Linked DNA regions of Homo sapiens. The protein of the gene in region 1 interacts with the protein of each later gene in a pairwise test. Each region holds a gene or a part of one and is shown in the gene's direction. Other genes may lie near its edges.

Evidence for each region.
Region 2: the proteins of WFS1 (region 1) and RNF183 interact in binary tests that used the Homo sapiens proteins (3 or more experiments, as listed by UniProt).
Region 3: the proteins of WFS1 (region 1) and PELO interact in binary tests that used the Homo sapiens proteins (3 or more experiments, as listed by UniProt).
Region 4: the proteins of WFS1 (region 1) and CMSS1 interact in binary tests that used the Homo sapiens proteins (3 or more experiments, as listed by UniProt).

The regions. Positions count from the first base shown.
Region 1 is NC_000004.12:6,272,850-6,279,885, forward strand, and holds part of WFS1 (wolframin), read left to right. Parts: intron 1-4,601; 5' UTR 4,602-4,606; coding exon 4,607-4,838; intron 4,839-7,036. UniProt on the Homo sapiens protein: Participates in the regulation of cellular Ca(2+) homeostasis, at least partly, by modulating the filling state of the endoplasmic reticulum Ca(2+) store.
Region 2 is NC_000009.12:113,296,571-113,300,390, reverse strand, and holds the end of RNF183 (E3 ubiquitin-protein ligase RNF183), read left to right. Parts: exon of another isoform or gene 1-535; intron 536-615; 5' UTR 616-819; exon of another isoform or gene 820-2,169; 5' UTR 2,170-2,206; coding exon 2,207-2,785; 3' UTR 2,786-3,298; downstream 3,299-3,820. UniProt on the Homo sapiens protein: Acts as an E3 ubiquitin ligase catalyzing the covalent attachment of ubiquitin moieties onto substrate proteins. Triggers apoptosis in response to prolonged ER stress by mediating the polyubiquitination and subsequent proteasomal degradation of BCL2L1.
Region 3 is NC_000005.10:52,784,042-52,790,931, forward strand, and holds the start of PELO (protein pelota homolog), read left to right. Parts: upstream 1-3,874; 5' UTR 3,875-4,312; coding exon of another isoform or gene 4,313-4,373; intron 4,374-6,890. Other genes in the region: ITGA1 (integrin alpha-1 precursor), read left to right, coding at 4,313-4,373. UniProt on the Homo sapiens protein: Component of the Pelota-HBS1L complex, a complex that recognizes stalled ribosomes and triggers the No-Go Decay (NGD) pathway.
Region 4 is NC_000003.12:100,156,860-100,163,895, forward strand, and holds part of CMSS1 (protein CMSS1), read left to right. Parts: intron 1-3,325; exon of another isoform or gene 3,326-3,570; coding exon 3,571-3,642; exon of another isoform or gene 3,643-3,845; intron 3,846-5,443; coding exon 5,444-5,573; intron 5,574-7,036.

The DNA.
Region 1 (7,036 bases):
ACCTTTTCCTTGTCTCAAAACGTTCATGTACGAGGTCACGTTTACCAGCTGTACAGCGTTGCACCATATGGAGGGGTGTAGGCTTTATAGCCAGCCCCTTTCTGGACAGTGCTGAAAGTGCCATATGATGGACATTGTGTGTGAGCCCCGAGGGCATCTCCAGTGACTCCCCTGGACTGGCATCCTGGAGGCAGAGGCACTGATCAGAGAGAGTGAACATCATCTTGGCTTCCCACAGGGGCTGTTTCTGAGGCACTGGCTTGGGAGATGGGGTTGCCCCCCCAGAGAGAACAGAATGGGGGTGGCCTGGGTGAGGGCCAGAGCCCTTAGGGCAGAAGGCCACGTGTGGTCATTCTGCTGCGGGTCTGAGTGGATGCATGGTGCCTGCAGCCCTCTCCAGGTGGCGGCCTCTCAGCTGAACTCCTTGGTGCCGGTGTTTGTGTTTGGACGGGATAAAAATATGCCTCATTGCTCATGAGGAAAGAATGCTAGCAACTTTGGTTTTGTGGATCTTACACAGTGACGGCTTCTAAGCCATTGCTGTGGTCACCAGTAGGGAGTTGGGGCTGAGTGCCCCACCGTGCAGGTGGGGATCTGAGGGTGCAGAGTGGATGCAGCTGGAGATGCCTGGATGCTGGGGTCTGGGGGAGGGACTTGCTAAGGTCCCACAGCATTATTGCCTGGATGGTGCTCCTGCCCTAGGCCAGGCTGCCTCAGGCTTCTGCCCACATGCATTAAGTGCTTAACGTATTCCTGGCAAGGCAGCCGGTCTTCCGAGTGGATAAGCTGCAGCCCTGCCCTCAGGGCTCACAGTGGCTGTAACATGCAGGAAGACTCAGAGAGGGAAGGACCAGACAGCAGGTCCTTCCACCGGGAGATCTTTTCTGATCTTCATTGTCCCTGTGACCAACCATGACCAGGAATTGTTGTGCTTGTTTTGAAATAACAAGCCCTTTGATCCAAACCAGACTTGGCCAACCCCCAGGGAACCTGAAAATTAATCCTCCTGTATTCATCCATTCTTACTAACCAGAGATTTTACTTTAAACAGTTTTTTTTTAACTGCAGTGTGACATACATGGTACATAGGCCAGCTAGAATCTGTTTTCCTGAAATTCCTTTTATGAAGTGTTTTCCAACTGAACATGCCTTTGTTTAGCACCTGGGAGTAATGGCTTAGGGTTTTTCTTTTCCTTTTTCTTTTTTCTTTTTTTTGAGACGGAGTCTCGCTTTGTCACCCAGGCTGGAGTGCAGTGGCGCGATCTCGGCTCACTGCAAGCTCCATCTCCTGGGTTCACACCATTCTCCTGCCTCAGCCTCCCCAGTAGTTGGGACTATCGGCGCCCGCCACCACGCCTGGCTAATTTTTTTGTATTTTTAATAGAGACGGGGTTTCACTGTGTTAGCCAGGATGGTCTTGATCTCCTGACCTTGTGATCTGCCCGCCTCGGCCTCCCAAAGTGCTGGGATTACAGGCGTGAGCCACCGCGCCTGGCCGGCTTAGTTTTTTTTTAATGCCCAATAGTTTGCTTTCTCTTCTGCCACACACGTAATCCCCATAGCACCCCTATGTGGGAGGTGCTATCCCCATTTTACATATGGGGAAACAGACACAGTGAGGTCATGTGGCCACTAGTAAGGGTAACCGACGCCCCACACCATGTTGCTTCCAGCTGTAACCTCTAGCAGAGGGAGGGCTCTGATGGAGAGGTGATCGCCTGAGTGCTGTGTGTTTACCTGAGTAGGTGAGGAAGACAGGGACTCGGGACAGACATAGCTTGGAAGCTCCCACAAAGGAGGTATCGCTGGAGCTCTTGACTTGAAGGGTGCTTAGGGTCTAGGCTGGGGGAGGGGGGTAAGAAGGCATTCCGGGAAGAGGGCCCTGCAGAAACAGAAGTGTGGAGGTCAGCATTTGTATGCTGATGTTGAAGGGTAGCCAGTGTTTTGCAGTGAATGGGCCCCGGGAGAGAGGGTGCAGTGGCATGGCGGTCTGATTTCAAAGTCGTCTTTTTCAGAAATGAGCTTGCAGAAGCATTAGAATTGGGCAGGTCTGGATTTGAATTTCAGGTCTGGTACCTGGAGCTGTTTGACCTTGAGCAGGTCCCTCCCCTCCCTGCACCTGGGTTCCTGTCTGTGAAGTGGGGTGAGGTTGAAGGATAAAACATTTCCCCATCTATAACTCTGGGATGACAATAGGATCTACCTTCCAGGTCCATGCGAGGAACTCACGACAATAGGACCTACCTTCCAGGGCCATACGAGAAACTCATGAGAAAAGACAAGTACAGAGAACAGAGCCGTTGGTCTTGATGGCAGAGATGCCCTGGCGTAGGTCAGCCCTCAGTAAAGGTGCCCTCTCTCTCTGTCTGAGAAAGTGACACCTGACTTCGGGGCAGTGGGAACCATGGGAGAGAAGGTAGACAAGGCCACGTGTCATTTGAAGACCTGACTTTTCACCATCTCAGGTGGTCCGGTGGCCTGCAGGACCGTGGTTCTGTTTGCCCACAGCGTGTGGGTTCTACGTGCGATCCTGTATTTCTCTGCCACAGCTGACTAAGGGGACACTTAGGTCTGCACGTGCAGTTAAATGGCTGCTTTTGTGGAAGGTGCCAGTTCCCGGGAGCTGGGAACTTGGAAACAGGATGGAGCAGGCTCCCAAGCTTGACCATGCATGGTTTGCACCTGGGGGATGCACCCGGGGGTGCTTGACCATGCATGGTTTGCACCTGGGGGATGCACGGGGGTGGGGTGGGGGGGGGGGGTGTGCTTGACCATGCATGGTTTGCACCTGGGGGATGTTTTACACTAAGGGCTCAGTCCCTCTGAGGGAGGAACGTGTGGATTGAAATCTGCAGAGTTCTTGAGCGACACCAGTCTGATCTTTAGGACTCATTTGCAGCGGGAATGGAGCAGAAATTGTTGTGTGTGGAGCCTGGGGCCACTCCTGACTCTTCCAGTCACAGCTGCCCCCAAAAGTGACCTCTGGGCACCTACTCAGACCTGGCTGCTCAGTGCCAAGCGCTGGGTGTTCAGAGGTGGCCAGGGGACTCCCTCGTGCTGCCCATGGTGTCTGGTCTCACTGGTCCTCACAGTTGCCCCGTCCCCATTTTCAGATGAGGAGGCTGAGGTGCAGAGCGGGATGTGGGCTGCTCAGGACCACACAGCTGGTGGGCACAGAGCCAGGAGTACAGCGCTGCGGCAGCTTGGGGCTGGGAGCGAGACTCTCTGTTACCAGCCTCTCCCTGCTCTGTGCCTCAGAGGATGGCTGTGGCCCTGAGCTTGGGAGGGTCATTTGGGAATCTGAGGAAAAGTTTCCACAGCCTCACACAGCAGCAGGTTCAAGGTCCAGCAGTGCCAGGGGTTTGCATCCCACCCCTAACGCCGCTCATCCAGGGCCCATCCGGGTCCGGGGCTCGGGATCCTGCAGCGCTTTCAGCTCTGTGTCTGTGGCCGGTGGTTGTCCTTCATTACAGGGATGGTGGTGTTTTTCCATGTTGCTAAGCAGCATGTGAGGGCCTCTGTTGAATAAAATAAAGCCCTTGCTCCGGCGTGACACGGGTCACGGGATCTCTGCTCACTCTAGTCTCTTCTGATGCCCCCACCGCACTGTTTGCCTTAGTTTGCTTTTTACTCTCTGTGTTGGTTTCTGGGGCATCAGTCCTCTGACTTCGGTGCTGTGGCTTGGGCCTGGGGTGGGGGCTGTGGAGCGGCAGATCTGGGTATGAATCCCAGCTCCACCCATTTGGCTCCCTCTCTTCTCTCCCCTGCCCTCTTCTCCCCTCCCCAGCTCCCTTCCCCTCTCATATTTACTTAACTTTACTCAGTACCAGCGTATTAGTTTTCTAGGGCTTCCGTAAGAAACTACTGGAAACTTGGTGGCTTAAAACAACAGAGGTTTGTTCTCTGATGGTTCTGGAGGCAGAAGTCTGAAGTCAAGGTGTGGGCAGGGTGGGTCCCTCCTGGAGGCTCTGAGGGAGGCTCAGTTCCTCGCCTCTGTCCAGCTTCTGGCAGTGGCCAGTGGTCCTCCTGCTCCTTGGCCACTGTCACCCGTCTCCGCATGGCTCTGTTACACTTCTCTTCCTATAGGCCATCAGCTCTTGGAGCCAGGGCTTCCCTACTCCAGGCTGATCTCATTTCAAGATCCTTAAATACATCTTCAAAGACCTGTTTTTCCAAATAAGGGCACATTCACAGACATTGGTGGGCACATGATGTGGGGCCCAATTCAGCCCCCTGCAGCCAGGCTCCACATGGGTGGGCTCTGGGTGTTGCTATCATCATCCCCGTTTCTTGGATGAGGGAAGGCCAGGGTTGTGTGGCTCATGCCCAGTGAGGCAGGGACTCCAGGCCTCGGCATGTGCAGGTCTGAGATTGTAAGTGCCATGCCATCTGTAGAGTCACGTGGGTGAGTGTCCTCCCATGGTTTCCTCCCTGGAAGCGGTGCTGGCCCATGGGGACTGTACTGAGTGTCAGCGAGATCCTGTATGGAGTGTCTGGCAGCTCCCACCTGCCTCCCTCTGCTTTTCTGTCTCCAGCAGACACTAAGTGCCAGAGCGGGCTCTGCCGGTGCTGGATGTGCCTGACCTTGACTTTTCTTCCAGGCAGGATGGACTCCAACACTGCTCCGCTGGGCCCCTCCTGCCCACAGCCCCCGCCAGCACCGCAGCCCCAGGCGCGTTCCCGACTCAATGCCACAGCCTCGTTGGAGCAGGAGAGGAGCGAAAGGCCCCGAGCACCCGGACCCCAGGCTGGCCCTGGCCCTGGTGTTAGAGACGCAGCGGCCCCCGCTGAACCCCAGGCCCAGCATACCAGGAGCCGGGAAAGAGCAGACGGCACCGGTAAGGGAGCAGGCTGGGAAGCCCAGGCTGGGGATGTTCAGGGATAGCTGGGTGGGAACGGGGTTCAGCCACCCCTGGAGGGTCCCCCCGCCAGGTCCTCTGCAGTTCAGCATTGTGCAGCTCCCATGCTGTGCACAGGCGTCCATCCAGTGGGGCTACCCACCTCCTCAGAGCCTTGCACCTGTCACCTTTGTGGCACCCACTCGAGGTGGTGCTGGTGCCCCCACTCCTCTGCAGTCCTTCTCTTCCCAGGGCCTCTGCAGCACTTCACAGCTTCCATTTGCAACAGCGTCCAAACATGTGGAGTAAATTCACGGGCCCTCTGTAACCAACTAGGGTGGCAGGCCAGAGGTGACAGCCACACTCTCGGGAGTGAGGCCACATGCGGGCGAAGCCCTTGGTGCTGAGTTTCCCCTCTCCCTGAGGGAGACTTGTGAGGGACGGGCGTCCTTCACCTCCATCCTGAGGCGGGATGCTGGGGCCCTGGGTGTTCACAGGCAGAGCTGACTGAGGCCCTTGGTCTTCACAGGCCGAGCTGACTGAGGCCCTGGGTGTTCAAAGCAGAGCTGAGGCCCTTGGTGTTCACAGGCAGAGCTGACAGGCTTGTTGGTTCCTGGGTGGTGATGTGAGGGTGGTGGGTGTGAGCCAGGGGAGTCCGGCCCCTGGGCACCTTCTCCAGCTGACTCAGGCCTCGGTCAGCCTTCACTTTTGCTAGAGAGGCCGCTGCCAGGGAGGCTCAGTCCCAGCTCATCACTGCCCCTCCTGCCCATGCAGAAGCCCCAGACCCATGGTGAGTGCCTGCTGTGTACACCAGCCTTTTCCATGTGCCTGCAGGACTCCTCATGGCAGTCCTGAGAGGGGAAACTGAGACACCGAGTCTAGGTGACTTGCCCAAGAGACCCAGCGGGTGAGAGACGAGGTGCTCGAGTGGTCCAGGTTTCCTTCTTGTCCCAGTCACCCCACTGGCAGGGCCGTGGGGCCTCCCTGCTGTGGTCGCAGCGCGCTGAGGCTCCCATGTACCACTTATGCTGGGCGTGCCCTTGGAAACTCACTGCAGCCCTGGGCCCTGTTTGTCTTTGCATCTCCTTAAAAGATCACTGTGCTCCTCTGCTTTGTTTTGGAGGCCTCTGGGCGGATGAGGGCCTGACCCCGGGATTTGGGCCCAGCCTCACGGCTTCAGGGGAACAGATACCAGGGCTCGGAAGCTTGGTTTCAATCTGGGTAATGAGAACAGCCCGCAAAGGACAGAGTCCAAGACTGTGTGTTTCAGATAAGAAGAGTCAGGAAGCAGCTGTGGTTTGTTTGGCTTCGGTCTCCAATGTGGGGGTGGTGAAGAGCAAGCCCTGGGCGCCGCCTGACAGCCCAGTCCCCACCACTGGGCCTGCAGCTGGGGGCAGTGGGCATCCCGTCTCCCAGTCACTGGTCACTGATGTGGCCAAAGCAGGCCTGGCCCTGCATGCCCAGTGGCCGCAGGGAGGGCAGGGCCCAGGGTCCCTGCCAGTAGCAGCTGCTGCGAGAATCTGTTATTTAGCTCCCCCATCCAGCCAACATAGGTGGGTGAGCATCAGTTGAAATACCAATAGGTAACAACAAGGGTAGCTATTTAACTGACACTTCCCCGAGCTAGGCATCTTTTTAGGGCATTAGCCCACTTGCCTCTTTAACAGCCCTGGGAGGCAGGCTCTGCTGCTGCCCTGTTTTTCAGATGGGAAACCGAGGGATAGAGGGCTTAAGTAGATGACCCAGCGTCCCGTGGTTGGTGAAGGGTGGAGGGGAGATTTAAACATACCGTGGAGCCTGTGCTCACTATGGGCCTCAGGTCATCTGCGCCCAGGGATCCCCATGTCCCAGGCTCAGAGAAGTGCACAGAGCAGGTTGGCCTGTCCCTAGATCAGTGCCTGGCCAGGCCCTGGTGACAGGAGTGAAGGCTCAGTCCTGCCCTCCGGGAGCCCTGAGCAATATGGGAGACAGGAGTGAACAAGGAACTACATTCTGGGGCTCATGTAGCGCGGGGGACAACCCACATTGCAGTCCCCTAGGGGCACCCCAGGAGGGCCTGGTCACTCTTCAGGGCATCAGGAAGACTGCCTGGAGGAGGCATCGTCGGAGCCCCATCTGAGCTGCTCCTTGGCCTGTACACTTGGGAAACAGGAGAAGAGCAGCCTTGGGGTTGCCCTTCTCTGGTTGCCTCCCTGAGG
Region 2 (3,820 bases), on another chromosome or scaffold:
ATGAGGTCAAAGACAATGTCTATTTTGTTCACCATAATACCTTGCACAGCACCTGGGCTAGAGTAAGCACTCAATAATGTCCGAGTGGATGAATGGACTGCAGAATAAAGCACTGGTGCAGAGCCCTGCTAAACTACCCTAGTTTCGCTTAGGGCTCCATCTCCCTCTGCATATCTTCATTTCCTCCTTCCCTGTTTGGAGCAGTGCCAGAGGTCTAGAAGAAAACCAGGAAGCCACAGGTCCGAGAGTATAAGCAGGTTTTGCTTCAGACATCGGCTCAGTCGGGGTAGATGATGTCATATCAGGGGCTCTAGGGAGACTCCCTTCCCCCAGATCCCCTCTTCCACAGTTCCTGGATTTCTACCATGAGTCTTCTGGCCGTGAAGGATTCCTGATCACATGCAAACACTTATTATCTAGCTAGTAACACGCACTGAGTAGGGGGACGGCATGGATGCAGCCTTCTGTCTTTACGAAAACCATGAGTCTGAAGACATGGGTCCCATGTCACCATTAACTAGCTGGGTGACTTTGGGTGAGTCACTTCTTGTCTCTCATCTGCAAAGTGAGTAGTTCAGATGGAGAATTGGTTTTTAAACTTTTTCTTTTCCCCAGCAGATCAACTCTTCAAATTATTCGAATGACCCATATGAGAAACAGAGAAAAGCCAAGTATTTCTGGTTGAAACGGAGAAGCTGGGCTGGAGTGCGCCTCCCTCCAACTCCCCGCTTTAACTCCCTAAGGTTGGTGGGATGGCCAGCTCTAAGATCTCAGAAGGCTGACCAGCTGTGTGCTAAGAACAAAGCAGAAGGCAGCGAGGTTTGTACACGCTGATTGCAGTTACTTAGGCACATTAAAAGATCAGCGGGTGACTGGACTGAATCTGATAGTCGGAGCTCTTAAGCTTCGAAGTAGGTGACTTTCACAGCAACCAAAGTGCTGAGCAGGCAGCCCCTTTGTGCAAGGAGGAGGTTCCAGCCACTTTCGAAGAGAAATGAGGGCCCCAGAGAGAGGAAGCCCAGAAGACTCAGTTACCCTCTTCACATCTACAAAGACGAAATTGCCACCCTACCTTTCCAGACCAGGGACTCCAGGTGTTGAAGGGACTGCCCACAATCTCACAGGTGCTTGGCTTCCAGGTTCAATTAGTTGCCATGCCCTGGGGGGAACTCAGGTCCCCCATCTTCCTCCCCACCCCACCCCCCAGGAAGCTCTCTGGCCTTGGCTCCAAGCAGGTGTGCTCAAGAGGCTGCCGACTGGGCCACCTGGCAGCCCCAGGTGCTGCGTGCATGCTGCCATGGAGACAGGCCCCTGGGTTGGTGGCAAGAAGGCAGTCTCCCAAAGCTTTGCCGATTCAGGGGAGGGAGCAACTGGAGCCTCAGGCCCTCCAGAGTAGTCTGCCTGACCACCCTGGAGCCCACAGAAGCCCAGGTGCGTGCCCTGAAGGTTTCCCAGGACAAAGGGAGGGAGGAGGAGCCAGGGTAGGCAGAGGATGGGGAAGAGGCTCTGGAAGGGGAAGAGGCTCTGGAAGGGGAAGAGGCTCTGGAAGGGCTGATCTGGGGACTGGGGCAGGGAAGCTTCTGCAAGGCTTCCAGGTAAGGAGAAAGGCCTTTCCAGGGGCTTCCTTGCCAGGCCAAGGACTGGGTGAGTAGGATGTGGAGGGTTGGCCCTCTAGCTCAAGGGGAGGAGGGAAAGAGGGCTGGCATTTGTCCCCATAGGAGGGACAGACCAGGGAATTCACAAAACCCATCTCTGCGCTAGTCAGGGATTTGAGGTAGCAGGGAAGGAAACATTTGTCCTGTAGCAAAACCCGCAGACTGCAGCTTACCCCCAGCTCCCTGGATTCAGGGCAGCCAAGGGCACAGACAATGACCATAAGGAGCATTTGCGTCCAGCTCCAAAGCCCAGGGCGACATCTGCTCCAATGCCGGCTCTCTTGGGGGCTCTTGGTAGGGGTGGCCCAGGCCTTCACCTTGACAGAGGGGAGGCTGTAGGAGCATTTGACTCAACTCGATGGGTTAGGAACTGGTGATCAAGAACAAAACGCTTTTGAACCTAAGTAAAACGTGGTGATTACACCTTTCAACACCCACAGAACACTTTGCCCCAGGCCAAGCACAAGGATGGGACTTCATGGCTGTTCCTTTGCTCCTTTCCCCCTTCTGCCAGGACGTCTCCCGCGAAGCCTCCCCGTGTGTGGCTGAGGATGGCTGAGCAGCAGGGCCGGGAGCTTGAGGCTGAGTGCCCCGTCTGCTGGAACCCCTTCAACAACACGTTCCATACCCCCAAAATGCTGGATTGCTGCCACTCCTTCTGCGTGGAATGTCTGGCCCACCTCAGCCTTGTGACTCCAGCCCGGCGCCGCCTGCTGTGCCCACTCTGTCGCCAGCCCACAGTGCTGGCCTCAGGGCAGCCTGTCACTGACTTGCCCACGGACACTGCCATGCTCGCCCTGCTCCGCCTGGAGCCCCACCATGTCATCCTGGAAGGCCATCAGCTGTGCCTCAAGGACCAGCCCAAGAGCCGCTACTTCCTGCGCCAGCCTCAAGTCTACACGCTGGACCTTGGCCCCCAGCCTGGGGGCCAGACTGGGCCGCCCCCAGACACGGCCTCTGCCACCGTGTCTACGCCCATCCTCATCCCCAGCCACCACTCTTTGAGGGAGTGTTTCCGCAACCCTCAGTTCCGCATCTTTGCCTACCTGATGGCCGTCATCCTCAGTGTCACTCTGTTGCTCATATTCTCCATCTTTTGGACCAAGCAGTTCCTTTGGGGTGTGGGGTGAGTGCTGTTCCCAGACAAGAAACCAAACCTTTTTCGGTTGCTGCTGGGTATGGTGACTACGGAGCCTCATTTGGTATTGTCTTCCTTTGTAGTGTTGTTTATTTTACAATCCAGGGATTGTTCAGGCCATGTGTTTGCTTCTGGGAACAATTTTAAAAAAAAACAAAAAAACGAAAAGCTTGAAGGACTGGGAGATGTGGAGCGACCTCCGGGTGTGAGTGTGGCGTCATGGAAGGGCAGAGAAGCGGTTCTGACCACAGAGCTCCACAGCAAGTTGTGCCAAAGGGCTGCACAGTGGTATCCAGGAACCTGACTAGCCCAAATAGCAAGTTGCATTTCTCACTGGAGCTGCTTCAAAATCAGTGCATATTTTTTTGAGTTGCTCTTTTACTATGGGTTGCTAAAAAAAAAAAAAAAATTGGGAAGTGAGCTTCAATTCTGTGGGTAAATGTGTGTTTGTTTCTCTTTGAATGTCTTGCCACTGGTTGCAGTAAAAGTGTTCTGTATTCATTAATTCATTCACTTATTCATTCCACGACCATTTACTGGGCTGGTGCTGAGTGCCAGAACTGAGGGAAGAGAAGAGTAGGATTATCCAGGGGTGGCAGATGGCCCTCACTAGCAGGAAGGGGTGTGCTCATTCAGCTGCTGCTTTTATGAGACCACCTCTTGCCAGCATGTAGTTCATGGAGTGTTAGGTGAAATCTAAAGGTGAACGATGTTAGATCAGTGGACTAGGGGAAGTCTGGGATTTGGAGGAATAGGTCTTTCTTCCTCCCGGCAGATACAGAGGCCCTGATTAGAATGGACATGGGGTAGAGTTCTGATTCCCTTCCCCCAAGCTCCATAATTCCAGCTTCAAGAAGATGGAAACGCTGGACACAGGCAAAAGTTTAACTCCCATCCCAGGCCATGGGAGGCAGCGGGGGAACCCTAGCTTTCACTTTACATGATAGAATCCAGGAACCAATCAGACAGAATTTGGGGGCTCAGGCTGTTGCTTGGTAAGTTGCAACCTTGCAGTGTCTAAAACTCT
Region 3 (6,890 bases), on another chromosome or scaffold:
CAACTGTTGTATCCATTTTTGCCTCTGCAGAACATAGCCCTGGAGCCCAATATATGCCAGAAAATTAAAAATTATTGAACTAGACTAAGTTTTCCATATGAGTTAGCTTTGTGAGTTAGCCCCACTGTTTTGGGGTATATTCCCCTAAGTGCTTACATACTAAAACTTAAAAATCCAAATCTTCATAAAATCTTTGTAAAAACGGAAGCAGTTCTGTACACTTCCACCTACCCCTAACACCTGAGAGTGGAGGGGATGGGGTTGGGGTAAAACCACACTTTGATGCTACCTTAAAATGTATTTAAAATCTCATATTTGACTTTTAAAAAGAAAACATGATTTAAAAATATTTCTTATAAAAATCTGTTATTTTAGCAAACAACAATTTTTAAATTATTTATTTTTGAGTAAAATCAGCACCACCCCCACTACCCAGGTGGGAGTACCTTATTTATCCTGTAGCTTTGAGAACCTATAATCTTACTGCTAAAGAACCCTGGCATACATTAGACACGGAGTTCTAGAACCTCTTCTATTCCCCCAACCTCTTAGCGGAATGTTCTTCTCTTGTAAAAAAATTAAAAAAAAAAAAAAAAAAAAAAAACCTCTGACGGCCAGCCAATTTGAAAAGCAAATTCATGTGAACGTTATAATGGGTTCTGATGTCTTCATGCATACCCATTTTATAGAACTATCTTCAAGATAATTCCCTAATCCAAGGTAAATATTTTTAAAGCGAGGATTCCAGAAATAATAATAGGAGTTGATGGAGATATTTTTAGGCGGACATTAAAGTTCCTCTTCTGATGGCCATCAAATTTCACCACTTCCTACAGGGTCTACCACACGCAGAGCCTGCCCTGTTTACATGGTCTGTTTAATACCAATTCTTCTATTTACAGAGAAGAATGATTCATACTAACCGAGCACTTACTTTAATCCAGGCATTGTGCTAAATGCTCAGAGGCTCGGTTCATTTAATCCCCACAGCAATTCTCAGACCAGAAGTAGTACAGTATTTTCATTCCCACTTTACATTTGAGAAAACTGAGGCTTAGATAAACTTGATGACGTTTCCCAAATCACACAGCTACTATATTGTGGTTCCAGGACTTGAGTCCAAGCAGCGTAACTCCAGAACCTTACTTACTCTAGTTACTTTACTCAGTATATTAGATTAACTCCAAGAAGAATACTTTGGTTTTAAGTATATGTTTTTCTTTTTGAGATTATTGGTTAATAATCTCAATTACTCTTGCCTCATTTCATAGACATCCACTTTCCAAATTCTTAATCAGTTCAGTCTCTAATCTTTCAGTGCAGCCATCCCCAACCGTTTTGGCAGAGAGACCGGTTTCATAGAAGGCATTTTTTCCACAGACCAGGGGTAGGGGAAACGGTTTCAAGATGATTCAAACACATTACATTCATTGTGCACTTTATTCCCATTATAATTATGTTATAATATATAATGAAGTAATTATAAAACTCACCATAATGTAGAATCAGTGGGAGCCCTCAGCCTGTTTTCCTGCAACTAGACGTTTTCATCTGGGGATGATGGGAGACAGTGACAGATCATCAGGCATTAGATTCTCATAAGAAGCGTGTGCAGTTCACAATAAGGTTCATGCTCCTACTCATGCTTCCAAACCCTTAAAGAGATCTGATCAAATCAAGTCTCATTTAAAATAGAAAAGTATGTAGTATAAAGTCTAGAGCTGAAACATTTGTCATCAAGTGTCTCATATCAATAACTAGTTTGTGACTCTGGGCAAGTTTCTGTCTTCTCTAAATCTTTACTCAATGACATGTCTTTCTGTCAGTCAGAATAAAATTGGTTAAGAAAATAACCGGCTTGACATTTATTTGTATTTGGGTTTATTGAAGTTCAGAAAATAAGCACTGATTCTAAAATTAATTCTCTAACCATAGTTATCTCTCAGTCTCTACATTTGTATTGACTAGACATATAAAAGATTCATAAATATGTAAACATGTAAACATAAAATTTGTAACTTGTGAAAATTAATTGTAACAATATCACTGTTAGTGATGGTTATCACCAATAATTTGTAAGTCCTAGAGGAAATAAAAATATTAAAATTGAAATTATATATTAGCCCCCAGAAGAAAGGTAAATTTCCCAGTAATTGTAAACTTGAACATATTATATGTTAACCCTACTTTATTTCAATATTTTACAATTTCTTTTTGTTTTTTCTAATGAAATATATTGCAATTTGCTAAAATGCCATATATGTATTTGCATATGTATGTATATGCTGTACATATATATGTACACATACATACATACACATGATTGTGTATATATAGACACACTATTATATGTTTTTGAAAACTAAGCAATTTGGAGAAATATCATTGGGAAAGTACTTACTATGATTTTTAAATGTCTACGAATTAATCAATATCTATTGGTTACTGTTCAAAGCACAGAGAGTCATACTGAGAGGCATAAGACATAACTGATACTACCAACAGGGAAACGAGATATACACAGGAAATGAATTCCTTGGCAGGGTATGAGAGCATTGAACACAAACAAAGGAACTTAAGTAAAGTCCAATGGGATTGAACTGTGACCCAACATAATACAATTTTTCTAGAGACTCATTTGTGTAAATTTGAAGACAGAACTGAGAAATGACATTATAAAAACTAAAAACGGGAGAACGAGATTTTTAATGTATTTACTAAATAGTGAATCAGTTCAGATACATAATAGAAAAGGAATTTCTTGATTAATGGGTCAACATACTGAGATCTGATGGCCTTCAACCTCCTTGGGTCTGCCCACCCCATTTTTGACGCTCCTTAAACTTCTTCAACTTTTGTCTTCTCCAGCTTTTAGTTGCTGTGATCCTCTATCTGGCAATGTATCCAGTGAACCCTGTGGGCTTCTTCCTTCCTGTCCCTCGTGTTACCTGTTCTGTGCTACCTGTGTTGCGTTCTGCTCAACGAACCCTCCTTTGGGTGGCACTCTTGTCCTGCCTAGCCCTAGTTCTGCTAGAGATGCTCAATTAGTTGTTGAGTTGAAGAATTGAATTGAACTGTTTCCCTCAGATTCCTCTAAACACAAATCCACTTATTCTTTCTGTCTTTGAAATTCTCAAAACCGCTAAGACACAGCTATTTTGAAAATAGCCAGCATTGGTTGAAGCTAGGGTGAATATGGCTTTTGACTCAGAGAGGTTGTTCAACTCACCAGGAAAGGGAAGCATTGCAAGTTCCTAAGCACTTCTGGACTCTTAATGCATTTTCACTCGTGAAAGTTTCAAGCAAGAAAAAAATAAAGTAGTGCCCCGAGTTCTTTATTAGATTCAATTACCAGCGTACAAACATCCTAATTCACTTAAACAAAATAGCCCACACACATTCCATTTCCAAGGAGGCTGCTTTTCTTCCTCTCTTCCCTTCTCGCTCTCCCTCTTACTGTTTTTCCTCCGTCTTGCTTCTCCTTTTCTCCCCTTATCCTAGTTATCTCAAAGAAAAGCTTATCTGCAACCACCCTTTAACCACGAATTACCATAAACGAAGCAACCCCCCCACCCCCCCATAAGCGAAAGCAAAGCCCTCAGTGGAGCCTGTCGGGGTGGTGGGGACGCCCCCTTTCGTGCAAAACGACTTCACGGTGAATTTCAAGTGTCCGCAGGGGATGGAAGGGGGGATTCCAGATCCTCGCATTTTCACAGACGGCCTAATCCCTCTGCGCAATGGACCCGGGAAAGCTGCCTCCCGTTAAGGGCGCCCAGGCACTGTCAAAGCGCCCTCCCTGCCCGGGCCGGGAGAAGTAAGGGGTGTGAAGGCGGAGCCACTGGGCTGGCAACACCCTCCCGAAGGTCCAGCCCTTACCCGCCTTCCTACCACCTTAGGGGATTTGGCCCGGAGAACGAGATCACCCTCTCAATGAAAGGCAGATGTCCCTTTAAGGTTTGCTTCTACAGCCCGTGGACTTTAGCCTAAACACGGACCCGCGAAGCTGGCTTTATTTGTCCATGTCTCGGACAGAGCCTGGGAAGCTGCCAGTGAGATTTCAGAGACCAAGAGCGCGAAGGGGCGGGCGATGTGGCAATCCGTCTGGGATGTGAAAAGCGTGGAGCGCATTTAGAGGAATTCGACGAAAACACAGGAAATCACTCCTCTCCCGCTCCTGGGCGCCGCTGCCACTGGGGCAGAGGACTGGGAACCGCGGCAGCGGGATAAGTGGCCCAGCCAGAGAGCGCAGCTCCCGCGCCCGGTCCTGCCCTGCGAACCAGCGCGGCCCCCTGGCGCTGAGGCTGCTCCGGCCATGGCCCCTCGGCCCCGCGCCCGCCCAGGGGTCGCTGTCGCCTGCTGCTGGCTCCTCACTGGTGAGCGACTCGCTTTTCTCTGAGCATCTCCTGCTCGCGGGCTTGGGGCTTGGAGCGGGGAGGGAGGTCCTCAGAGCCATGGGCCAGATAGGAAGAGAGAGCGCCCATCCACTTTCGGGCATTCCAGGTACTCAGGCCAGGCTACGGGGCAGGCAGGAGTTTCGCGTTCTGGTTTTGATATGAATTAGTTTTCGTGTCTCTCCAAAGTCCTTCACCCTAGGAGTAGGAGTGAGGCAGCACTGAAAACCTTAGAAGGTAGAATTCACTTTTAAAATTAAAGTTGTTTTTACAATACACATTGTATATTAGGACTTTGCTGAATATTTCCTCCCCTCCACCCTTTTTTATGGCATGGGATGGGAGGGTGATGCTTATAGGGCGCCTGATACATATGCAAAATTCCTACCCTCGGGTTGTTCCAGAGTGGACATTATTGAATTTTCTTGCTGTCTACTATTTAGGCTTTTTTCCCATGCAGAACAAGAAAAGGCAGGGATGCAAGACGAAACTGCCACTTGTTCCAAAATGATGTTTCTATGTCAGCACCCAAGAGGAGGGATATTTTGAAACGTAGAAAGGAATGGTGAACATTTTCTCTGTAAATATCACAGGGCAGTCTACTTTTAAGATGCAAAATATAGTATTGTTATTTGTACATAAATGTGTATTTTTAAGGAGGGGACTTAAAAACATAGTGGAAATGCAAAGTTGTATCCAATTTAGAAAAAGCTTGAAATATAGCATTTTGTAAGATTTTCCCAATAATGAACTCATGGTCAGATCTTTTTTACCAGTTACTGATTGGGGTGGGGGAAAGTTGAAATGGTGAAAAATGGAAGAAGGTGGGGGGAAAGTGTATCGATAGAATCTCTGTGTGAAAGAAAATCACCTTATTAATGGGTTAATTAACAGCTGGCTTTAACATATCATTGATATTCAATTGTTCAGTGTTTTTACTGCTGGCATGGTTATTAGTACTAGTTAATTTAGCATTTTTACCACTAAAAACAGGGTAGAGCCAGCTAGTTTAGACCTGCCTTAGATGGCCAAGCATTGTTAAGTTTTATGAAGATGATTTAGAAGTTGATTATCAGCAAGCAGAGCTTTTTTCAGAAGGGAGGTAATGTAAAGAGAGTTAATAATTAGCTACTGGCTTTTCATCCAAACATTTCCCACTACTCAGGAAATGTCCAATAATCCAAACAGTGGTAACTGCTGAACAGCATTATAGCCGGTGAGTGGTTTAACTTACCAGCTACTGCCACTACTTTTTACACATATTTGACCTATGATTCTTCTCCAACTCAAATTTTTTTAGATTGTATTTTGTTGTTTTTGTGCAAAATCTGAATACAGTAGTTTACTATCCAAGTTGTACTTTTTCATTCTACCAAATAAGCAGTCTCTAGAGTAGAAATGATGAAATGAGGTTTGCGTATCCTCTAAAAAGACAAGAGTGAAACTTGAAGTAACAGAGAAGTTTAACAAGTTACAATTTCATATATATGTTGGTGAAATATACATTGGTGAATCCAGGAAGAGACTTAAAATATTTAGAAACCTTGTGTGCACTATATTTATGCCCATTTCGCAACACATGAGGGATCTGAAATTGGACTGCTTTCCCATCAGTCATTATATTCTGTAGGCTCTTCTTTAGCAATCTCTTTCAGATTTGGAAACTTCTCATCAATTCAGAGTCCGTTTGTAACCTGGGGACTCATCACCATACTTATCCATGCACACTACTGTAGAGCTTATCTTTCTGTCTTCAATTTGAACCCAACTTCCAGTCTACCCTCCTAATACATCATTTTTACTATATCTGTTTTTAGTCAAAAATCTTTGGTGGTTCTTTGTTGCCTTTAAGATAAAATCCAAAATTCTCAACTGACTGCCCTAATCCAACACCCTCTCTCTATCTCCTACTACTCCTATGTCAGTTTCTTATTGCTGTTGTAACAACTTGCCATAGATCACCAGCTTAAAACAACATAAATTTACTATTGTACAGTTCTGTAGGTCAGAAGTATCACTGGGCTAGAATCAAGATGTCACCAGGGCTGCATTTCTTCTGGAGGTTCTAGGGGAAAATCAGTTTCCCTGTTTTCACCAGCCTCTGGCCACCACCTGCATTCTTGGCCTGTGGCCCCTTTCTCCATCTTCAACCGAGCAGGGTAGAATCTTCAGATCTTCCCCCATGACTCTGCTTTATCATCACATCTCCTTCTCAGACTCTGACCCTACTACCTTCCTAAGGATCCTTGTAATTACAATGTGCCTACCAGAATAATCTCCTCATCTCAAGATCTTTAATTTAATTACATCTTCCAAGTCCCTTTTACCATCTAAGATAACATATTCACAGGTTCCAGGCATTAGGTCATGGATATCTTTGGGAGACCATTATTCTGCCTACCACAACCCATAAGCATAAACTGTCCATTATAGCCAATCACTTTTCTTTACTTTCTCCATAATCCTCATGTTCATTTTGCCACTGAAGATATGACCTTG
Region 4 (7,036 bases), on another chromosome or scaffold:
CTGCCTCGGCCTCCCAAAGTGCTGGGATTACAGGTGTGAGCCACCACGCCTGGCTGTTTTTTGTTGTTGTTGTTGTTGTTGAGACAGGGTCTCACTATGTAACCAGGGCTGGTCTCAAACTCCTGGCCTCAAGCAGTCCTCCCACCTTGGCCCCACAAAGCACTAGGGTTACAGACATGAGACACCATGCCAAGCCCCCTACTGTTTTATGTGATCTCTTTTTCTATAATATCATTTATTGAAAAATTGAATCTCTTGGGCTGATTCTCTGATTTTCTCACCACTTTTTTCTTTTCATTTTTCATCTCTTTCTGGGACATTGCCTCTACTTTATCTTCAAGCCTTCCTCGTTTATTTTTATTCCACATTTCTTATTTGTTTTAATGCTTAACTGTTTTTCCCATTTTTACAGCATCTTGTTCTTGTTTCATGGTTGCAAAATCTTCCCTTATCTCTCTGAGGATATGAATTGTCATTATTTTGAGGTACCATCCCACTTTTCTCTAGGTTCATTTTTCTTTTTGTTATTTATTTGCTCTTGTGTTGGAGACTTTCCTTAGATGTCTGAGGAACCTTAGCTATCCATTCTTATTGAAGAGAGATACACTGAAACAGTGATGAGTTGGGTTTGTCAATTAGTGTATTCATGGTAGGGTGATAGGATAACAAGCTGGATTTTTTACTATGGAACTCCCAAACGTCACTCTCTGATGGTATTTCTTTTAGGCCATTCCATTTTTCCAAAGAGGAATTCAGTAGTCTCCTGCCTGCAATATGTAAGCATGGAATAGGGACAGGAAATGGAGGCAAGCCTCAGCCTCTGCCCTTTCTCCCCTGGCCCAGCCTTGATCCTCTTGATGTCTTCAGAGAATAGATCTCCAGTCGGCTGGCAGGACAGGCAAGGTGAAAGGAAGCAGTAATGGGATAGTTGCTTGGCTACCAGGGTAGGAGATATCACCTAGTGGGGGACAGGAGTAGCTAATCATTCTAAATATAAACTTTCAGCCAATCTCTTCTTTTTTAACCCTTTACTCTCTGTAGTACTTTGTGCCTCCAAAGTACTGGACCTTCTCAGAGTCGAGCAGGTCAAAGACTTACTTATTGTTAGCTTCCACCCCTTCTGAAACCCAGCTGCTAGCTTTCTCTCTGTGCCAAGTCACTTCTATCCAGCTCCAGCCACTTTCCATTTTCCAAAAAGTTGTTGAAATCTCTCCATTACTGTTGTTCTCTCTCCTGGTTTCTTGGTTTTTATATAGATCCTGCTCAATAGGTCCTTTTCAATGCCCTTTATTTTCAGTTTACTGGTATTTTGAGGTCCATTTGCCATGTGTAACCAGGAGAATCATTCTTAAAGTAATTTTTGATACTTTAAGGAATTGAAAATATGCTCTAGTTGCTTCCCTTAAAAGCAACATTTTTTTAGGGGAGTGTGATTCTTCAGACTACATATTTAAAATTGCTACATTTCATATAAAGAAATGACATTACTTATCAACTGTCAAAGTCACACAGTGTTGGAATTGGTTTCCAGAAATGCTTAGTGGCTTGGCCGGATTCTTTCACATCTTCCTACCTAGTCTCCCTGAGGGTAAACAGCAACATTCATAAAGCAGTTAACTAAATGTAAGAATTTTCAATACTGTGGATTTGGATTTCTCCATAAAGTCATCTCACCTCTATGGAAATTGACCCCATAAAATTGGCCTCTTCATTGGCACCCTACCACAGCCAGCTAAAGTAACTAGTCTCCAAAACCAAAGATTATTTTGCATTTCCTTTAGGATGATGTAAGAATTTGAACCTATCATTTAACTGAAGCAATATCATGGCTAAAGCAGTTCATCAAGCATGTTTCGTTTTCCTGTGCATGATTCAGAATTACATTTTTATTTTTTCTCCCAGAATTAAAGAGTCCATATTCTTACAATTGAGCTCATTTCTAGATTTAATTTATGTCATGTTTTAATTAATTGGCTTTGTAAACCTAGCACAAATGCAACCAGTACACTGAACATATTCCTCGAGAACACCTCCATACGTTAATAGATTGTAACAGGTTTCTAAATACGCTTCCCAAAAACCTTGATACTGGTAGAGATAATGCAGTATAGTTTAAGGGATCTGCTAATCATATCCCGGCCTTTGCCTTAGGAACATGAGCTGAACACTGGCCTGGTTTGTAATTGGACTCTTATGGCCATCTGGCAGCTTCTGTGACATATTAGTGGCCTTGGCACAGTCTCTAATTGGCATGTACCAGCATCAAATTGGCATGTATCTACATCCACAAGACAGTTTAACTTTCTAAATAAAAGAAGCCATATCTCTCTTTTCTTTAGCTATGATGCAATTGCTCTTTGCAGGTTTTTTGTTTTATCTTAGAGGAAACTAAAATTTCAAGATTTCCCATGTCACTTTAATCCTGAACTTTTTAAATCTATTTCTGTAATAACTAAAAGAGAATCTTGAAACTGCGGGTCTTTGGCCCCATGTCTTGAAGAAATTATGTAGTATTATATCTTTCTCTCTGACTTCAGGCCATAGACATTCTCAATCTGCAGGCTGTCTGCAAGCTTTCATAGAAAGATTCATCTGTAATCATTTTAGCAGAGCCAGTGGAGACAAGATTGCTTTAGTTAGTAGCTTATCAGTTTAAACTGAGTATTCTCTGGTTGGAATGGAAAGTTAATCAAGGAAAACTCAGAATAAGTTTTCACTTACATTTTATATCTTACTTGGCAACTTGTTTGACAATGTTGCATAAAAGGTCCAGCACAGGAAACATTTTATACTCCTGCTTATGATTAATAAATATGGAATCTGGGGCATTCTATTTTATAAATCAAGGTCTTAGTCCAAATTTCCTGTTTTTCTACATTAGAAAAAAGCCCTCAGGGTAAAAATAGTACTAAACTGGGGTACTCAGGGGTCAAGGCAACAGGCAAAACAGATTACTCTAGATACTGTGGTGCTGAGACGGTTATCAGACTAGTAGCAAAGACATTCATTTTGTAGTCATTATAGCAAAGGCATTTGATGCAGCTGGTTTATAAAAACGTAAGTTAATATATCTTACTTTGGATTTTCTATGCTTATTGAAAAGAGGAAAGGAATGTATAATACAAAACAATAAACCAGTGACTTGGAAATGTAGGCTCACACACAGCTAGTTCATGGAAAACCTTAGTCACTCTAGTCAAAGACTGTCTTACCACATCTTAATTTTAATCACATCGATTTCTGCTGTATTATACAAACTCAGCCACTGTCTTCAATCTCCAATACACTGCACTTCCACACCAAGCACACATATACACTCACTCACAATTTGATCTTGCTCAAAGATTCTCCAGTCTTAAGTCATCTGCGCTTTCTGACTTTCTCAAATTCTCTCAGCCCAACCGCTGCATAGTAACCTACGGTAGATCTTCCAGCATCTCTCTTTCTGTAGAATATTACCAAGATACTCTGAAGAATACATGCATGGCAGAAAGTACTTTGGGGTTCATGCCACTAATTGACACTTTATCATGAAAAGATTAAAATGTTCTCATTTGTATTTCTTAATAGCCTAAAGAATGTTTTTTGATACAACCAAAGGAAAGAAAAGAGAATACCACCAAGACCAGGAAAAGAAGAAAGGTAATATTAATAATTTCTTAAATTTGTATGGCCCCACATGGTTTCCATCACATTTTTATATATCATACTTTCTTGAGGCAACTATTGTAATCCCCACCTAAGAGATGCAGACATTGTAAGATTCTTTGAGGTTTGGTGACTTTCCTAAGGTCACTACTAATAAGTGTTTCTGTTGGAGCTAAGAATAAATTCTTCTGACTCCTATTTCAGTCCTGTGGAGTGCCAAATATCTTTGTTACCCACCCTATGTTTTCAGTGTGGTCAGATGTCAGACATAGATTTCTAATTCTAGAAGGAGTCCAGAGCTATCCTCCCCCGGCCCTTCTGGCTCTGTCCATGAAAAGAAATATACCAACCTCCTTTTTCTATTCATTCCGGATTTTAAGACCTTATACCTTAAAGTATGAATAAAAAGAAAATAATAAGCAGATGAAGGTAGTATGAGGCACTTCTGACTAATTTGGAACCATAAATTAGGTCAAAAAAGCTCCCCTACCTTGCATTTTGATATTTGCTGGTGAGCACAGGAAAGACTCTTTCTCATATACAAACTTTTTTATGGCTCAGCCTTGGAGAAAGTATGGTTAGCTATGACCTTCTCCCACAGTTGTGAAAACAGCAGTGTAATTCTCTCCCTGCCAAGAGGGGTCTGCTGCTGAAGTCAGCCGAGGAAATACGATTGGGATTAGAGGAAAGAAGATGGACTCAAACCTATTACTTAACAGCAAGCTTTTAGAAAACTGAGAGTGTGTGTGCATATGTTTTCTTTTCTTACAAATGGCCAAATAGGAAAATGGGAGATGCCAAATTGGCTGAGGTTTGGCAAGTCCTTAAATAAGTGACTTTAACTTCGCTTTGATAATTTGTACACTAATGGCCTTCTGGAGTGTTAAGTTCTTGGTGGCTCAAGGTCAAAACTCTAGCTAGATAGTTTAGTCTTGACTGAGGTCACACTAAAATGTGCCCACTGATGACATATTTTTAAAAGTTAATTTCTTTGACAGAGGCTTGACCATTCTTGGCAAGTGTCTAGAAATGAGGATATTGTAGAAGGAGGGGGAAAATCTGGGGTCAGGGGTGGGGAATGCTCCTTCTGGATCTTTGGTGGAACATTAGAAGGAAGTGAGAAGGGAAGCTTATGATGGAAATAAATGAATGATTGTGGGTTTCTACTACTGCAGCATTCAATACATGCTACACAAATGAGTCCAAATCAAAATCGATGTTGGAAAGTATTTCCTGTAATATTTTTTCTACTTTGCATAGGGCCACTTTAATACCATCAGTTATCCAAGACCTGAGAATCGAGGGTGTTAAGTCCCCTTCTCAGTAGGCCCCTATGCTCAGATTCCTACTGCGGGTTTTACACTAATGACAGAAATCCAAACTAAGACTCAGCACCTCAAAAACCAGATTGGGCAAGAAATTCTCAAAATTCTAATCCTACAGGAATATAAATCATCTAGGGCTAAAAGAGAGCTCTCCATAGCAATGAGATTTCTTTACTTTTAACAGAAAATAATACCCCAGTATGGAGATGCCTGCAAAAATTTAGTTATCTTGGAAGTCATAGACCAAGAGTTACAGGGAGCTTTCTAGATCATTTTTTCATTTTTCAAAGCAATAGTTATGTCCAAGAAGTATTTAGTGAATTTTCTCAAATGTATTTATTAAAACCCACATTCACACTTGGCTAACACCAAAAGCTATGTGCCGTTTAAATGCCAGAGGAACTAACCTATTCCAACCAAATGCCATTTTAAAATATGTCGTCCCATTTTTCTTCTTTCTCATATCTTAGAAGAAAATTACTGATGTTCTTGCAAAATCAGAACCAAAACCAGGGTTACCTGAAGACCTACAGAAGCTGATGAAGGACTATTATAGCAGCAGACGCTTGGTGATTGAATTAGAAGAACTGAACCTGCCAGGTATAGCCAAGCTTCAATTTTCCTAAAGACAAGGAGCAAAACATAAGTATCTGTTATGGTTAGGTGTCTCAGGCAGTCAATTAACACATTTTCCAGCGGGCATGGTGGCTCATGCCTATAATCCCAGCACTTTGGGAGACTGAGGCTAGAGGATCGCTTGAGCCCAGGTGTTTGAAACCAGCCTGGGCGATACAGTGAGACCTCATCGCTATTAAAAATAAGAATAATAATAATAATTGTTTAAAGAGACATACTTTCAGGCCAGGCACAGTGGCTCACGCCTATAATCCCAGCACTCTGGGAGGCTGAGACGGGTGGATCACTTGAGGTCAAGAGTTCAAGACCAGACTGGCCAACATAGTGAAACCCCATCTCTACTAAAAAATACAAAAATTAGCTGGGTGTGGTAGCACACGCCTGTAATCCCACCTACTTGGGAGGCTGAGGCAGAAGAATCACTTGAATCTGGGAGGCCGAGGTTACAGTGAGCCAAGATGACGCCATTGCACTCCAGCCTGGGGGACAGAGCGAGACTCCATCTCAAAGAAAAAAAAGAAACATAATACTTCTTTTCCTCAATCTAATAGTTTTAACTGATAGATTATATCAAATAGTTTTAACTGATAGATTATATCCTTACTGGATGCTAAACAGTATTTGTCAAATCTAATATTAAGATTTGTGATTGTATTTTTTTATTCAAAAGGTTAATTGTTGGGTGTGCATTTTTAACAAACTATTCAATGAGTAGGAATTCATCATGAGGATAGAAGTTGAAGTACACATTTAAAAGTATGGATGTGAAACACTGATTTACTCAACTATTATAGACAAGAACTTTAGCCTTAATAAGCAATTTAGTTTTGTTGTTGCTCTTATTATGGATTTCTAGTCATGGTTTTTAGAATAGTATTTTAGGTTGCAGGCCAGACTCTTTCAAGCAAACTGTCAAAAGGTAGGAACAAAATTCTGTATGTTTTGCGAGGCTGACACTTTGCCTCAAGGGATTCTTAGGCCTACTAGAATTTTAGATCCTCTGCCTTAGTGTATTTATAATTAAGCTAAAAGATATTACAAAATTTAAACAGCTAATTTTTTAAAAATATTTATTTATTTATTTTAGAGACAGTGTCTTGTTGTGTCGCCCAGGCTGGAGTGCAGTGGCACCATCGTAGTTCACTGCAGCCTCGAACTCCTGGGCTTAAGTGGATCCTCTCATCTCAGCCTCCCGAGTAGCTGGGAATATAGCCACGTGCCACCATACCCAGCTTAAACAACTAATTTTAATTAATTTCAAAATTATAATGCATCCTTTAACTCTTTTAGGCAGGGATGGGAGGAAATAGATGTTGTCATAAAATCAAACCATAAAAGTTTGGGTACAACTGCTTCAGATGAGCTATTTATAGACTACTAGGCATATCTAATATTGCTTTTGGAAAAAGTAGAGGGTGGCTTGATTT